Linked DNA regions of Homo sapiens. The protein of the gene in region 1 interacts with the protein of each later gene in a pairwise test. Each region holds a gene or a part of one and is shown on either strand. Other genes may lie near its edges.

Region 1 (7,025 bases):
GTTGTAAGAACTAAAGGACATTACCCACTACTGATGCCATCGTTTTACGGCTGAGCAAACTGAGGCTCGGTGCAGATCAACCACTTGCCCACATGGCTCCTACTCTGCTAAGCTGCCGGGGATGTCCTGTGTCATCTGAGGGCCTTCCCTGCCCAGTCCTCCCAGGAAGCAGCCTTTGATTCAAATCCCATCCTGTTGAAGGCTGGGCGCAGTGGCTCACGCCTGTAATCCTAGCGCTTTGGGAGGCCAAGGCAGGAGGATCCCTTGAGATCAGGAGTTCGAGACCAGCCAGACCAACATGGGAAAATGCCATCTCTACTAAAAATACAAAAATTAGCTGGGTGTGATGGTGCATACCTATAATCTCCGCTACTCAAGAATCACTTGAACCCAGGAGGTGGAGGTTGCAATGAGCCGAGATCGCGCCACTGCACTCCAGCCTGGGTGACAGAGCAAGACTCTCTCAAAAAACAATCCCATCCGGCTGGGTGCGGTGGCTCACGCCTGTAATCCCAGCACTTGGGGAGGCTGATGCGGGCGGATCACGAGGTCAAGAGATTGAGACCATCCTGGCCAACATGGTGAAACCCTGTCTCTACTAAAAATACAAAAATTAGCTGGGCGTGGTGGCATGTGCCTGTAATCCCAGCTACTCGGGAGGCTGATGCAGGAGAATCACTTGAACCAGGAAGTCAGAGGTTGCAGTGAGCCGAGATCGCGCTACTCCAGGCACTCCAGCCGGGCGACAGAGCAAGACTGTCTCAAAAAAAAAAAATCCTGTTGGAAAGTGAGGCAAGGCACAGGGTGGAGCTGGCCCCAGAGCATCACTCTCCACCTCTGGCCTGCCTTGCCCTGCCCTTGGGTCATCTGGAACCTCAGCAGTCACAGGACTGCCTTCTGTGTCTCCCTCCAGAGCTGCCCTCCTCGGAGCACCTGAGTGTGGCAGATGCCACCTGGCTGGCCCTGAACGTGGTGTCCGGCGGTGGCAGCTTCTCCAGCTCCCAGCCCATCGGCGTGACCAAGATCGCCAAGTCAGTCATCGCCCCACTGGCTGACCAGAACATATCCGTGTTCATGCTGTCCACGTATCAGACAGACTTCATCCTGGTGAGCTGACCATCACAGACACGCCTTGCACACTCATGCCCGCCTCTGACACACTCACTCCCATCTCCCACCCCTTGCAGCCTTGCCCTTCCACGCTATTCCAGGGTGGGGGCAGAGTCTCAGGGTGAGAGGTCGGTGCCCCAGACCCACATCCCCCAGGGCCACCAGGCACACACGGCCTCAACTTCTTGCCCCTAGGTGCGCGAGCGGGACCTGCCCTTTGTCACCCACACATTGTCATCAGAGTTCACCATCCTGCGGGTCGTCAATGGCGAGACCGTGGCAGCCGAGAACCTCGGCATCACCAATGGCTTCGTGAAGCCCAAGCTGGGTGAGCTGGGGGCGGGGGTTTGTGCAGGGGAAACCTCACGAAGTTACCAGGCCCAGCCGCAGACCAGCCTTACTCTCAGCACGGGCTTCTGCCCACTGAGCATGAATGGAGTGCCAGGCAGAACGGGATGCAAAGGGCCCAGTGTGGTGGCTCATGCTTGTAATCCCAGCACTTTGGGAGGCCGAGGCAGGCAATTCACCTGAGGTCAGGAGTTTGAGACCAGCCTGACCAACATGGAGAAACCCCGTCTCTACTAAAAATACAAAATTAGCTGGGTGTGGTGGTGCATACTTGTAATTCCAGCTACTGAGGAGGCCGAGGCAGGAGAATCACTTGAACCCAGGAGGCGGAGGTTGTGGTGAGCCGAGATTGTGCCATTGCACTCCAGTCTGGGCAACAAGAACAAAACTCCATCTCAAAAAAAAAAAAATGTGATGGAAAGGTCCTAGGCAGGCCTTGCTGCCGTGTCTAGCAAGGGTGGTGGACGTGCATGCAGACAGCAATGGCCAGAGGCCACTCCTGCTGCAGCCCAGGTGTCAGGGTGGATTTCCCTGGGCAGGGACTGTGGTGCTGAAGCCTGGAACACAGGTAGGAACGGAGCCAGGTGGTGCCGGTTGGGAAGGGCATCCCAGGCAGCCAGCACAGCATGTGCAAAGGCCCAGGGGCCTGAGGGTGAGATGGAGAATCAGGACGGTGGTAATTGGTGGTAGAGGCTGGAGAAGCAGCGGTGAATGAGTCTCTTGGGGCCTGCAGCTGAGCCCTCCCCAGCCCTCTTCCCAGGCCCTGCACCCACCAGAGCTGCTGCTTTCAGTCCCAGCCTCAGTGCCTGACATCTTTGTGCTCTTACAGTCCAGAGGCCAGTCATCCACCCACTGTCCAGCCCGAGCAACAGGTTCTGTGTCACCAGCCTGGACCCTGACACGCTGCCTGCTGTTGCCACACTCCTCATGGATGTCATGTTCTACTCCAATGGGTAGGGCTGCCTTGGGCATGAGGGGTTGCAGGGTGGGCCAGGGAGAGGCATGGCTCCGCCTAGGAGTCTTAGTCTGACGGGGGAGGCTTTGCTAGGAGCTCATCTGAGGGAAGAGACACAGACCTTCCCTGGAGCTAGTCTGAGCAGAGAGACATGGACCCACCCTGGAACTAGTCTGAGGTGGGAGACATGGACCTGCCCCGGAGCTAGTCTGAGGTAGGAGACACAGACCCGCCCCAGAGCTAGTCTGATGGGGGACACATGGACCCTCCCCAGAGCTAGTCTGAGTGGGGAGACACAGACCTGTCCTGGAGCTAGTCTGAGGTAGGAGACACAGACCCACCCCGGAACTAGTTTGGGGTGGGAGACATGGACCCGCCCTGGAACTAGGCTGAGGGGGAGACACAGCTCTACCTAAAAGCCCCAGTCTCAGGGGTGAGACATCCTACCCTGGGAACCCCAAAATTTGGTGACGCCCCAAAGACTCATTGGGAGCTGTAACAAACTCCCCACTCCCCACTGAGCTCCGAGGACAGGCCCAGTCTGTTGAGGAGCTGAGAACTCAGATTTTTTTCATTTGGTGAACAACAGACATTGTGTCACTTCCTCAGCAGATTTTGTAAAGTTTAGGCCAACACGAGGTGGGGCGGGGCAGGGTCCAGCATGCTGACAGTCACCACAGCCTGTGCCCTGAGATGCAGGCAGGGGCCGGTGTAACCTGCGTGGGAGGCCGGCCGGGCCTCCAGTACTGCAAAGTGTAGCACCCGCCTTTGTGAATGCGGTGAAATCATCCCCGTGGCATAGCGAGCAGGATGAGAAGGACACTGGCCCAGGGTCACCCAGGTGGCATCAAAGCCTGGGCAGGGCCCAGCTTCCCTGGGCTGGTGTGAATGGGGCAGGGGCCACAGGGGCCCCATCTTTACCAGCTGCCTCTGGTCCCCAGAGTGAAGGACCCCATGGCCACTGGGGATGACTGCGGCCACATCCGCTTCTTCTCCTTCTCCCTCATCGAGGGCTACATCTCCCTGGTGATGGACGTGCAGACGCAGCAGAGGTGAGCCAGGCCCTGGGGTGGACGTTCAACCCAGGGTGGGCCCCAGGGTCTGGGGGGACTATGTGATGGCACATCACCCACTTTGTCTTTTATTTGTTGTTGTTTTTTTTTGATACGGGGTCTCGCTCTGTCGCCCAGGCTGGGGTGCAGTGGTGCGATCTCGGCTCAAGGCAACCTCCACCTCTCAGGTTCAAGCAATTCTCCTGCCTCAGCTGGGACTACAGGCATGTGCCACCATGCCCAGCTAATTTTTGTATTTTTAGTAAAGACAGGGTTTTGCCATGTTGGTGAGGCTGGTCTCAAGCTCCTGACCTCAGGCAATCCGCCCGCCTCAGGCGTGATTTTTTTTTTTTTTTTTTTAGACGGAGTCTCGCTCTGTCGCCCAGGCTGGAGTGCAGTGGCACTATCTCGGCTCACTGCAAGCTCCACCTCCCGGGTTCATGCCATTCTCCTGCCTCAGCCTCCCAAGTAGCTGGGACTACAGGCGCCGCCACCACGCCTGGCTAATTTTTTGTATTTTTAGTAGAGACCAGGTTTCACCATGTTAGCCAAGATGGTCTGGATCTCCTGACCTTGTGATCTGCCCGCCCCGGCCTCCCAAAGTGCTGGGATTACTGGCATGAGCCACCGCAACCAGCCTGATTTTTTTTATTTTTATTTTTGTTGAGACAGGATCTCTCTCTGTCACCCATGCTGGAGTGCAGTGGTGCAGTCTTGGCTCACTGCCACCTCTGCCTCCCAGGTTCAAGTGATCCACATGTCTCAGCCTCCTGAATAGTTGGGACTACAGGTGCCTGCCACCACACCTGGCTAATTTTTGTATTTTTATTTTATTTTTTTTTAATATTTATTTACTTTTTGAGACAGGGTCTCACTCTGTTGCCCAGGCTGGAGTGCAGTGGCGCGATCTCAGCTCACTGCAACCTCCACCTCCCAGGTTCAAGTGATTCTCCTGCCTCAGCCTCCCGAGTAGCTGGAACTACAGGCGCACACCACCATACCCTGTTTATTTTTGTATTTTTTGTAGAGACAGGGTTTTGCCATGTTGGCCAGGCTGCTCGTGAACTCCTGACCTCAAGTGATTCACCCACTTTGGCCTCCCAAAGTGCTGGGATTACCGGCGTGAGCCACCGCACCTGGCCAATTTTTGTATTTTTCGTAGAGATGGGGCTTCGCCATGCTGACCAGGCTGGTCTCCAACTCCTGACTGCATGTGATCTGCCAGTCTCGGCCTCCCAAAGTGCTGGGATTACGGGTGTGAGCCACCACGCCCTGCCACTTTGTCTCTAATAAACCCTCACCATAGCACTTCATCATAAGTAAGCTGGTCCCCCAGCTCAGAGAGGTGCAGGGGTTGTCCGAGGTCCACTGTGGGGTGGTGGCAAAGTGGGGATTTGAACCGCAGCCCCGGTGCTATTTCTCCCTCAGCTTGTGCTCTGGACCTGGGAAGAGGTGTCTAGACCAGCCTTAGCAAGGGTTTGGGGAGGGGCTTGTTACAAAGCCCAGCCTGACATCACCCTCCCCATCCGCCTCCCCTCAAGACGAGGAGGCCGCCGGGCGAATGGGTCCAGGGTGTCTGGAAGGGATTGTTTTTGGGGGGCCCTGAGGTCTGCCCAACCCTGCCTGGCCAGCCCCATGCCTCGCTCTGGCTGGTGCACCAGCACACCAAGGAGGGAGTGCAATTCACATCAGCCTCGGGGATTCTTCTCTCGCTCCTTTTGAAGGTTTCCTAGTAACTTGCTGTTCACAAGCGCATCCGGAGAGCTCTGGAAGATGGTCCGGATTGGAGGACAGCCCCTGGGGTTTGGTGAGTCCTGGGGGGATTACATGGGGAATTGAGGGAGCTGGCATTGCTGAGCCCATTCACATACGTTGTCCGCAGTGACTCGGCCCCTGCTGGGGGGTACAGATGGGGAGACTGAGGCTTGGGGAGCCTGAAATTTCTGTTGCTCACTGGTGTGTGGCAGCTGTACACAGGCCTCTTGGGGAAGTGCGGAGCAGGCTTCAATCGGAGTGCTTTTATTTTGCCCCCTCTTGAAATTTAATATGTTGCTTATTATTAGAAAATTAAGCAGCTGGGCGCGGTGGCTCGTGCTTGTAATCCCAGCACTTTGGGAGGCCGAGGTGGAAAGATCCATTGAGCCCAGGAGTTCTGTACCAGCCTGGGAAACATAGCGAGGCCCTGTCTCTACCAAAATTTTTAAAATTAGCTGGGCATGGTGGCTGGCGCCTGTAATCCCAGCTACTCAGGAGGCTGAGGCAGGAGGATTACTTGAGCCTAAGAGTTCAAGGCTACAGTGAGCCATGATCATGCCATTGTACTCCAACCTGGGTGACAGAGCAAATCTTTGCCTCTAAAAATAAAAAAAGAGGCTGGGCGAGTTAGCTCGTGCCTGTAATCCCAGGTCTTTGGGAGGCCGATGCAGGTGGATCACCTGAGGTCAGGAGTACCAGCCTGGCCAATATGACGAAACCCCATGTCTACTAACAATACAAAAAATTGGCCAGGCACAGTGGCGTGCGCCTGTAATCCCAGCTACTCAGGAGGCTGAGATGGGAGAATCGCTTGAACCCAGGAAGCAGAGGTTGCGATGAGCCAAGATCGCTCCATTGCACTCCTGCCTGGGCAACAGAGCAAGACTCTGTCTCAAAAAATAATAATAAATTTAATTTAAAAAAGAATAAATTGGGGCTGTGATAAAAATTAAAGAGAAAAAAAATCACTCCTTATTTCCACAGCTCAAAGATAATAACTGCTGGCAATTTTTTAACATGTTTTCTTCACGTAAATACATGTAATTGTCACATATCTCCCAGAGAGTCTGACACCCAACACTTTACTCCTAAATGCCTCGCCTTTTCCATCCTGGGAAGAAGCACCGGGCAAGGTGGCTTACGCCTGTAATCCCAGCACTTTGGGAGGCCGAGGCAGGAGGATCACAAGGTCAGGAGATCGAGATCATCCTGGCTAACACAGCAAAACCCTGTCTCTACTAAAAATACAAAAAATTAGCCGGTCGTGGTGGCAGGCGCCTGTAGTCCCAGCTACTTGGGAGGCTGAGGCAGGAGAATGGCATGAACCTGGGAGGCGGAGCTTGCAGCAAGCCGAGATGGCGCCACTGCACTCCAGCCTGGGCGACAGAGCGAGAGTCCACCTCAAAAAAAGAAAAAAAAAAGAAGAAACACTTTCTCCTATATAACCACAATGACAGGATTCCACAGGAGAAAATTTTCAGTCATTCCCTAAGACTTAGTCTTTCCTCTGTTTCCACAGTTGTCCAGACAACGTCTTTGGTGGATAGCATTTTTTTTTTCTTTTTGTTTTTTGTTTTTTTTTTTTTTGAGACCGGATCTTGCTCTGTTGCCCAGGCTGAAGTGCAATGGCGCAGTCTTCGCCTCCTGGGTTCAGCCTCCCAAGTAGCTGGGACTATAGGCACGTGCCACCACGCCCGGCTAATTCTTGTAGTTTTAGTAGAGATGGGGTTTCACCATGTTGGCCAGGCTGGTCTCGAACTCCTGACCTCAAGTGATCCACCCGCCTCGGCCTCCCAAAGTGCTGG
Region 2 (7,025 bases), on another chromosome or scaffold:
AGGGCCCCTTGGGACCAGCGGGGGAGGCACAGGTCGAGGGGTTGAGTTAATTTATAACATTTAGAAAGGAATTAGGCATACCTTTTCGTCAAAGTCAGGGGCAGGAAGAGAAGCCAGATGTAGGGTCAGAAGATTGTTGATGTGGACATGAGGCAAGATGGTGGCACTTGTAACAAGCCGTGGTTCAGAATAGTTGCTGTCTGGCTGGCTGTGCCTAGTGATGTATGAAATATTGAAGAGTGAATTTTTGGTTGAAGGTGGTGATGCAGAGAAGGAACCAATAAGAACTGGCCCTTGTTTTCCTGCCCACTCACCCTGTGACCTTGGACAGATCATATTCTCTTGCCTCAGTTTCCCCATCCATAAAATTAAGAAATTGGATGAAATTATTTCTAAAATCTTTGCTCTCTGAAGGTGGCCATGAAGGAGATTCTAGATACTGCATAATTATCCGCAAATGTCCTGATCTTTCATGAAGTTATTTCATAAAGCACCCTGAACCTTTTCAGGATAATTTCCCTTTGACCAGAGTTAAGATGAAAATATGATTCAGTCAATTAAGTACATTAAGGATTGATTATTCATTTTACAAAGAGATACATCACTTTACCAAAAAATTCTTTTGAATGGTAAGATGCCATGATGCATTTGAAATAACCCGTTTTGCAAAAATATGTTCATCTCCAGCTCTTCGAGAGCATGTAAAAGGACGAACATTTGCAGAGGTGAAAGTTTAGTGTGACATTAAATCCCAGCATCGCTCTTTACCTGCTAATTTGCCAGTTAGTATTTCACATCATTTAAGTTTCTGCTCAAATGTGATTTCCTTGGGGAGTTCTATCTAAAAATAGTTCCACCATCAGTCTCTGTCCTCTTATCCTGTGTTATTCTTTATACCAGATGTTTTATCAGATATTTGTCTCTTTCTACCACTGGAATGCGAGATCTATAAAGATAGAAATTATTTTATTCATGCTGTAGTCCTGGTACCTAGAATAGTGCCTGGCATATGAGAAATGTTCAGTAGATGTTTGTTGAATGGATGGATGAATCTCACTCCATTTCAACCTCTAGCAAATAGACGTTGAATCCAGAAGAATTTCCAGGATTCTTATTTGGTGATTTCTAGGGTCCAAGGACTATCAACTGGTGACGTGGTCCCGGGATCAGACCTTGAGAATGTGGCGGGTGGATTCCCAGATGCAGAGGGTATGTATGCAGTGCTATTGTGGAGAAATGTACCTGAATCCACCAAAAAGTGTAAGATTCAGGATTTGCGGAAATTAGAGGTTACAGGATAAACAATTTTTTTTTTTTTTTTTTTTTTTTGAGAGTGCGTCTCACTGAATCGCCCAGGCTGGAGTGCAGTGGCACGATCTTGGCTCACTGCAACCTCTGCCTCCCGGGTTCAAGCGATTCTCCTGCGTCAGCCTCCTGAGTAGCTGGGATTATAGGCGCCCACCAACACACTCGGCTAATTTTTGTATTTTTAGTAGAGACGGGGTTTCACCAAGTTGGCCAGGCTAGTCTTCAACTCCTGACCTCAAGTGATCCACCTGCCTCAGCCTCCCACAGTGCTGGGATCACTGGTGTGAGCCACCTTCCCCGGCAGGATAGACATTTAATACATACTTACTGGTTGGCTGAGTAGCTGGTGTGTACCACACCAAGGCTTTGAGGTCTTTAAGAACCAACTTCAGTATTCAGCACTTTAAGGCCAGAGAGCCTCTAAATGTCTTTCCCCTCCTTATTCTAGCATAAGATAGTATGGGTAGCTCCCTGAGTATGTGCCCTGTGGGTTCATTTCTTTCTCTTCTAAATGGGCTAAGAAGCCTACCCTTGTACGCTGCAAATGCTTGGAGGCTTCTACATCTATCAGCAACACTGCTTTTATGAAGCTGTTTGTAATTTTTTCCCGATAAATGATATCTGTTTCTTACATGAACCACACACAGTAGTACCTGGCATGAGCTGCTTTGGTGGCCCTTGCTCTGCTCTGCCTTATCACAGGGTTCTGTCCTCTCCTCATTTGATGGCTAAATTTCTTGACAGTGGGAAGGTGTCTCACTTGTATTGGATCTCCCACAGCGCTTGGTACATTGCTTTGCACAGAATGAATAGAAAATACTGGATAAAAATTTCAACACTGCTTAGTATGAAGTCACTCTTGAGCAGTTTGATCAAATCTCATTACCTTATTGCATTTTCAATCTGTTTTTTCCAAAAGGTACAATTTGCACCAAATGCCTTGAGGTTATGGTTTTCGTTTTTTTTTTTTTGAGATGGAGTCTCTCTCTGTTGCCCAGGCTGGAGTGCAGCCACGTGATCTTTGCTCACTGCAACCTCTGCCTCCTGGGTTCAAGTGATTCTCCTGCCTCAGCCTCCCGAGTAGCTGGGACTGTAGGCGTCCGCCACCATGCCTGGCTAGTTTTTGTATTTTTAGTAGAGACGGCATTTCACCCTCTTGGCCAGGCTGGTCTCAAACTCCTAACCTCAGGTGATCCACCTGCCTCGGCCTCCCAAAGTGCTGGGATTACAGGCATGAGCCACTACGCCTGGCCGGTTATGATATTTTTGCTCCTGGATTAGCTGAATAACTCCATCAAAGCTTGGAGTTTAAATTAATTTTTTTTCTGAGGCTTGCATAAACTCTGAACATGATGAAAAAATTTCCAGTGTTGAATAATAGAGTCTGTTATCCCTGGTGTTTAACCAGGGAGAGTTGGCAATGGGTAAAATCTATTTTGATTATGTCAGCTCTTGGCTGACACATCCCCATCCTTTGCCCTTCCCATTTTTAAGTCAGAACTCTTTAATCAGACATGACAATCATTTCCACGGACTTCTCTAGAACTACATCTTCTACCCTTTGTTGCAGCTTTGTGCAAATGACATATTAGATGGTGTTGATGAGTTCATTGAGAGTATTTCCCTTCTGCCGGAACCTGAGAAGACCCTGCACACTGAAGATACAGATCACCAGCACACTGCAAGCCATGGGGAGGAAGAAGGTAATTTGTCAAACTGATGTCTCAGGTAAGGTGCCACTCTACGCATTGCAGAGTTGTGGCAGATACCCCAGACCTGTTCTCTGTTTCATTTTCAAAAATGCTTTCCAACATTGAACTTCTCTCTCCTGCTAGCCCTAAAAGAAGATCCCCCTAGAAATCTCCTGGAAGAGAGGAAATCAGATCAACTGGGGCTGCCTCAGACCTTGCAGCAGGAATTCTCCCTGATCAATGTGCAAATCCGGAATGTCAATGTGGAGGTACTTAGTTTAATCAACTGTATCTCATGTTTGCTGATGGCAGTTTGTGGGAGAGGGAACCATTTCAGCAATGATTTCAGTTAGCAAATAGCTTTGCAGCTTTAACAGAACTCTCTCTGCTTGCTTTTTTATTTCCTGGGTTTTCTGGCCAGGCGCGGTGGCTCACGCCTGTAATCCCAGCACTTTGGGAGTCTGAGGTGGACAGATCACTTGAAACCAGGAAGCCAGGAGTTTGAGACCAGCCTGGCCAACATGGTGAAACCCTGTCTCCACTTAAAAAAAAAAAAAAAAATTAGCCTGTAATTCCAACTACTCGAGAGGCTGAGGCACAGGAATCACTTGAACTTGAGAAGCAGAGGTTGCAGTGAGCCAAGATCGCACCACTGTCCTCCAGCCTGGGTGACAGAGCAAGACTCTGTCTCAAAAAAAATAAATAAAATAATTAAATAAATAAATAAATAAATAAGTAAATAAAGAGATGCAGACTTTCTTTCTACCCCTATTCTTTTCTCCTAAGATGAGCCAAAGGAGAACCTGATGCTCGTGTGCCTTAGCTCCTCCTTAGATGCTCCAGCATCTCATTTTACTGTAGAGGAAGATACTTAGGCCCTGGAGGCTTAGTGATTTGGCAGAGGTTGCTGCTGAAGTTGGGGACAGAGTTGACTTGGGAAGCCAAACCTCCAGCCCGTCCAGGGCACTCTGTGCTGTGCTGTGCTGTGCTGTGCTGGGCTGTGCCATCTTCTCTCACAGGCTGGCCATTTCCTGGTAATTTAGATTCACAGTAAGAAGGCAACCAAAACTTCTTTGTTTGCTTAGCCTGTGGAACAGTTACTTTTTTGGGGGCAAGTATTGAAAGTCTTTGCTTCAGAAAATTGAGTATCTCTCCAGAAAGGAGTTTTAAAGCTTGATTAGTTTTTCCTTTACCCAAATATGTGCTGTTACATAACTATCTCATGTGGCTTTTAAAACAAGTCTGCTGGCCAGGTGCGGTAGCTCACGCCTGTAATTCCAGCACTTTGGGAGGCCAAGGTAGACGGATCACAAGGTGAAGAGATCGACACCTTCTTGGCCAACATGGTAAAACCCCGTCTATACTAAAAATACAAAAATTAGCTGGTCATGGTGGCGTGCGCCTGTAGTCCCGGCTATTCACGAGGCTGAGGCAGGAGAATCGCTTGAACCCAGGAGGCAGAGCTTGCAGTGAGGCCGAGATCACACCACTACACTCCAGCCTGGCGACAGAGCAAGACTCCGTCTCGAAAAAAAAAAAAAAAATAGTCTGCTGTAAGTGGTTTTAGCCTCACTTTACAGCTGAGGAAACGGAGACATCAAGAGAAGAAATGTCCAAGGTCAGCAGCTATTTGGTGGAAGAAACAACATGTGAATCCAGGTCTCCAGATTTGCCACATGTGGTTCTTTTCTCTTTACTCCAGCTGCTGTCTCTAGTTGGCAACACAAGAAATGAAAAGATATAAAGGATTCTTTGCTTAATTAGTGATCTATATCAAGTCAGTTTATACTCCCTTTGTCCCATTTGAGGACAGTGTGGATACCTAGTGATCTAGTTTAAGATCTTGATTCCTTTCTTCGAGAGTACTTTAAAAAAATTATTGAGATATAATTCACACAGTATAAAGTTCATCTTTTTTTTTTTATTGAGATGGAGCCTTGCTCTGTCCGCTCAGACTGGAGTGCAGTGGTGCTACCGTGACTCACTGCAGGCTCTGCCTCTCGGGTTCACGCGATTCTCCTGCCTCAGCTTCCCAGATAGCTGGGATTATGGGCGCACGCCACCACGCTCAGCTAATTTTTTTTCGTATTTTTAGTAGAGATGGGGTTTTTGCCATGTTGGCCAGGTTGGCCTCGAACTCCTGATGTCAGTTGATCTGCCCACCTTGGCCTCCCAAAGTGCTGGGATTACAGGCGTGAGCCACTGTGCCCAGCCAAAATTCCGCTTTTTAAAGTATATAATCTGGCTGTTGTGGGTATATTCACAAAGTTGTACAGCCATTACCATTGTCTGATTCCAGAACATATTCATCATTCCCAGAAGAAACCCCATACCCATGAGCAGTCACTCCCTATTTCCCCTTCCCTCAGCCCGTGGCAATCCCGAATCTACTTTCTTCCCCTATGGATTTTCCCAGGAGCACTTTTTAAGTTGAGTCTGGTATTTAACTTCTTCCTGCTTTATTTTCCCATCTCAAAGTAAATATAACAAGTTTCAGTCTACCCCACAGCTTTGGGAGGGAGGAAGCTTTGTTAAAGTCAGAATACTTTGAACTTCGTGGTGGCTCATGCCTGTAATCCCAGCACTTTAGGAGGCCAAGGTGGGTGGATCACTGGAGGTCAGGAGTTTGAGACCAGCCTGGCCAACATGGCGAAACCCCATCTCTACCAAAACACAAAAAGCAAAACAACAACAACAACAACAAAACAAAGATTTGCTGGGCATGGTGGCCTGTAGTCCCAGTATTTGGGAGGTTGAGGTGGGAGAATCACTTGAACCCAGAAGGTGGAGGTTGCAGTGAGCTGAGATTGTGCCACACTGCACTCCAGCCTGGGTGACAAAGTGAGACCCTGTCTCAAAAAAAAAAAAAAAGAATACTTTGTGTTGGGAACAGGCCCCCTGAAATCTGGCCATAAACTGACCCTCTGTGTTGTTTGTCTTTGTGTAGTCTGCAGATGTGGATCTTGACTCCTGCAAGAAGTAGCTCACCGTGACAAAGCTGCCTTTGCTTTTATCACTTTGCAAATCAAAGAAGGGGGACATGTTGGGAACAGGCCCCCCCCCCCCCCAAAATCTAGCCATAAACTGGCCCCAAAACTGGCCATAAAGTCTCTGCAGCACTGTGACATGTTCATGATGGTGGTGATGCCCACGCTGGAAGGCTGTGGGTTTACCGGAATGAGGGCAAGGAACACCTGGCCCACCCAGGGCAGAAAACCGCTTAAACACGTTCTTAAACCACAAACAATAGCATAAGCAATCTGTGCCTTAAAGACATACTCCTGCTGCAGATAGCTAGCCACAGCCCATCCCTTTATTTCAGCCCATCCCTTTGTTTCCCATAAGGAATACTTTTAGTTAATCTATAATCTATAGAAACAATGCTTATCACTGGCTTGCTGTGGATAAATACATGGGTAAATCTTTGTTCAAGGCTCTCAGCTCTGAAGGCTGTGAGACCCCTGATTTCCCACTCCACACCTCTATATTTCTGTGTGTGTGTCTTTAATTCTTCTGGCACTGCTGGTTTAGGGTCACCCCGACCGAGCTGGTCTCAGCAACTTTGAGCTTATTCCATTGGTTTGAAAATTTTAAGAATCTGGTATGAAAATTTAAGAATCTTTTTGAAAATGAATTGTCTTCCACACACATTTGTCTTTGTAGACTCTTTCCCTTCATTCAATTACCAGGAACATGGAGCGTTCAGTTAAATGTGCTTGCATCGAAAGACGCTTTATGGTTTGTTTCTACAGCAATTGTGGATTTGTCTCTTGCAGATGGATGCGGCAGACAGGAGCTGCACAGTGTCTGTGCACTGCAGCAACCATCGTGTCAAGATGCTGGTGAAGTTCCCTGCACAGTACCCAAACAACGCCGCCCCTTCCTTCCAGTTTATTAACCCCACAACCATCACATCCACCATGAAAGCTAAGCTGCTGAAGGTGGGGGTCTGGGTTCCCAAATTCTCCTTGCTGTTCTGCATCATTGTCTAGATGGATTAGTAAAGAAGAATGAAAACTCCAGTAG

Evidence for each region. The genes of interacting proteins can lie anywhere in the genome.
Region 2: the proteins of CASTOR2 (region 1) and WDR59 interact in binary tests that used the Homo sapiens proteins (3 or more experiments, as listed by UniProt).

The regions. Positions count from the first base shown.
Region 1 is NC_000007.14:75,016,685-75,023,709, forward strand, and holds part of CASTOR2 (cytosolic arginine sensor for mTORC1 subunit 2), read left to right. Parts: intron 1-913; coding exon 914-1,107; intron 1,108-1,305; coding exon 1,306-1,438; intron 1,439-2,287; coding exon 2,288-2,411; intron 2,412-3,354; coding exon 3,355-3,465; intron 3,466-5,189; coding exon 5,190-5,272; intron 5,273-7,025. UniProt on the Homo sapiens protein: Functions as a negative regulator of the TORC1 signaling pathway through the GATOR complex. As part of homodimers or heterodimers with CASTOR1, directly binds and inhibits the GATOR subcomplex GATOR2 and thereby mTORC1.
Region 2 is NC_000016.10:74,912,113-74,919,137, reverse strand, and holds part of WDR59 (GATOR2 complex protein WDR59), read left to right. Parts: intron 1-1,129; coding exon 1,130-1,209; intron 1,210-2,878; coding exon 2,879-3,011; coding exon of another isoform or gene 3,012-3,036; intron 3,037-3,143; coding exon 3,144-3,268; intron 3,269-6,775; coding exon 6,776-6,940; coding exon of another isoform or gene 6,941-6,991; exon of another isoform or gene 6,992-7,021; intron 7,022-7,025. UniProt on the Homo sapiens protein: As a component of the GATOR2 complex, functions as an activator of the amino acid-sensing branch of the mTORC1 signaling pathway. The GATOR2 complex indirectly activates mTORC1 through the inhibition of the GATOR1 subcomplex.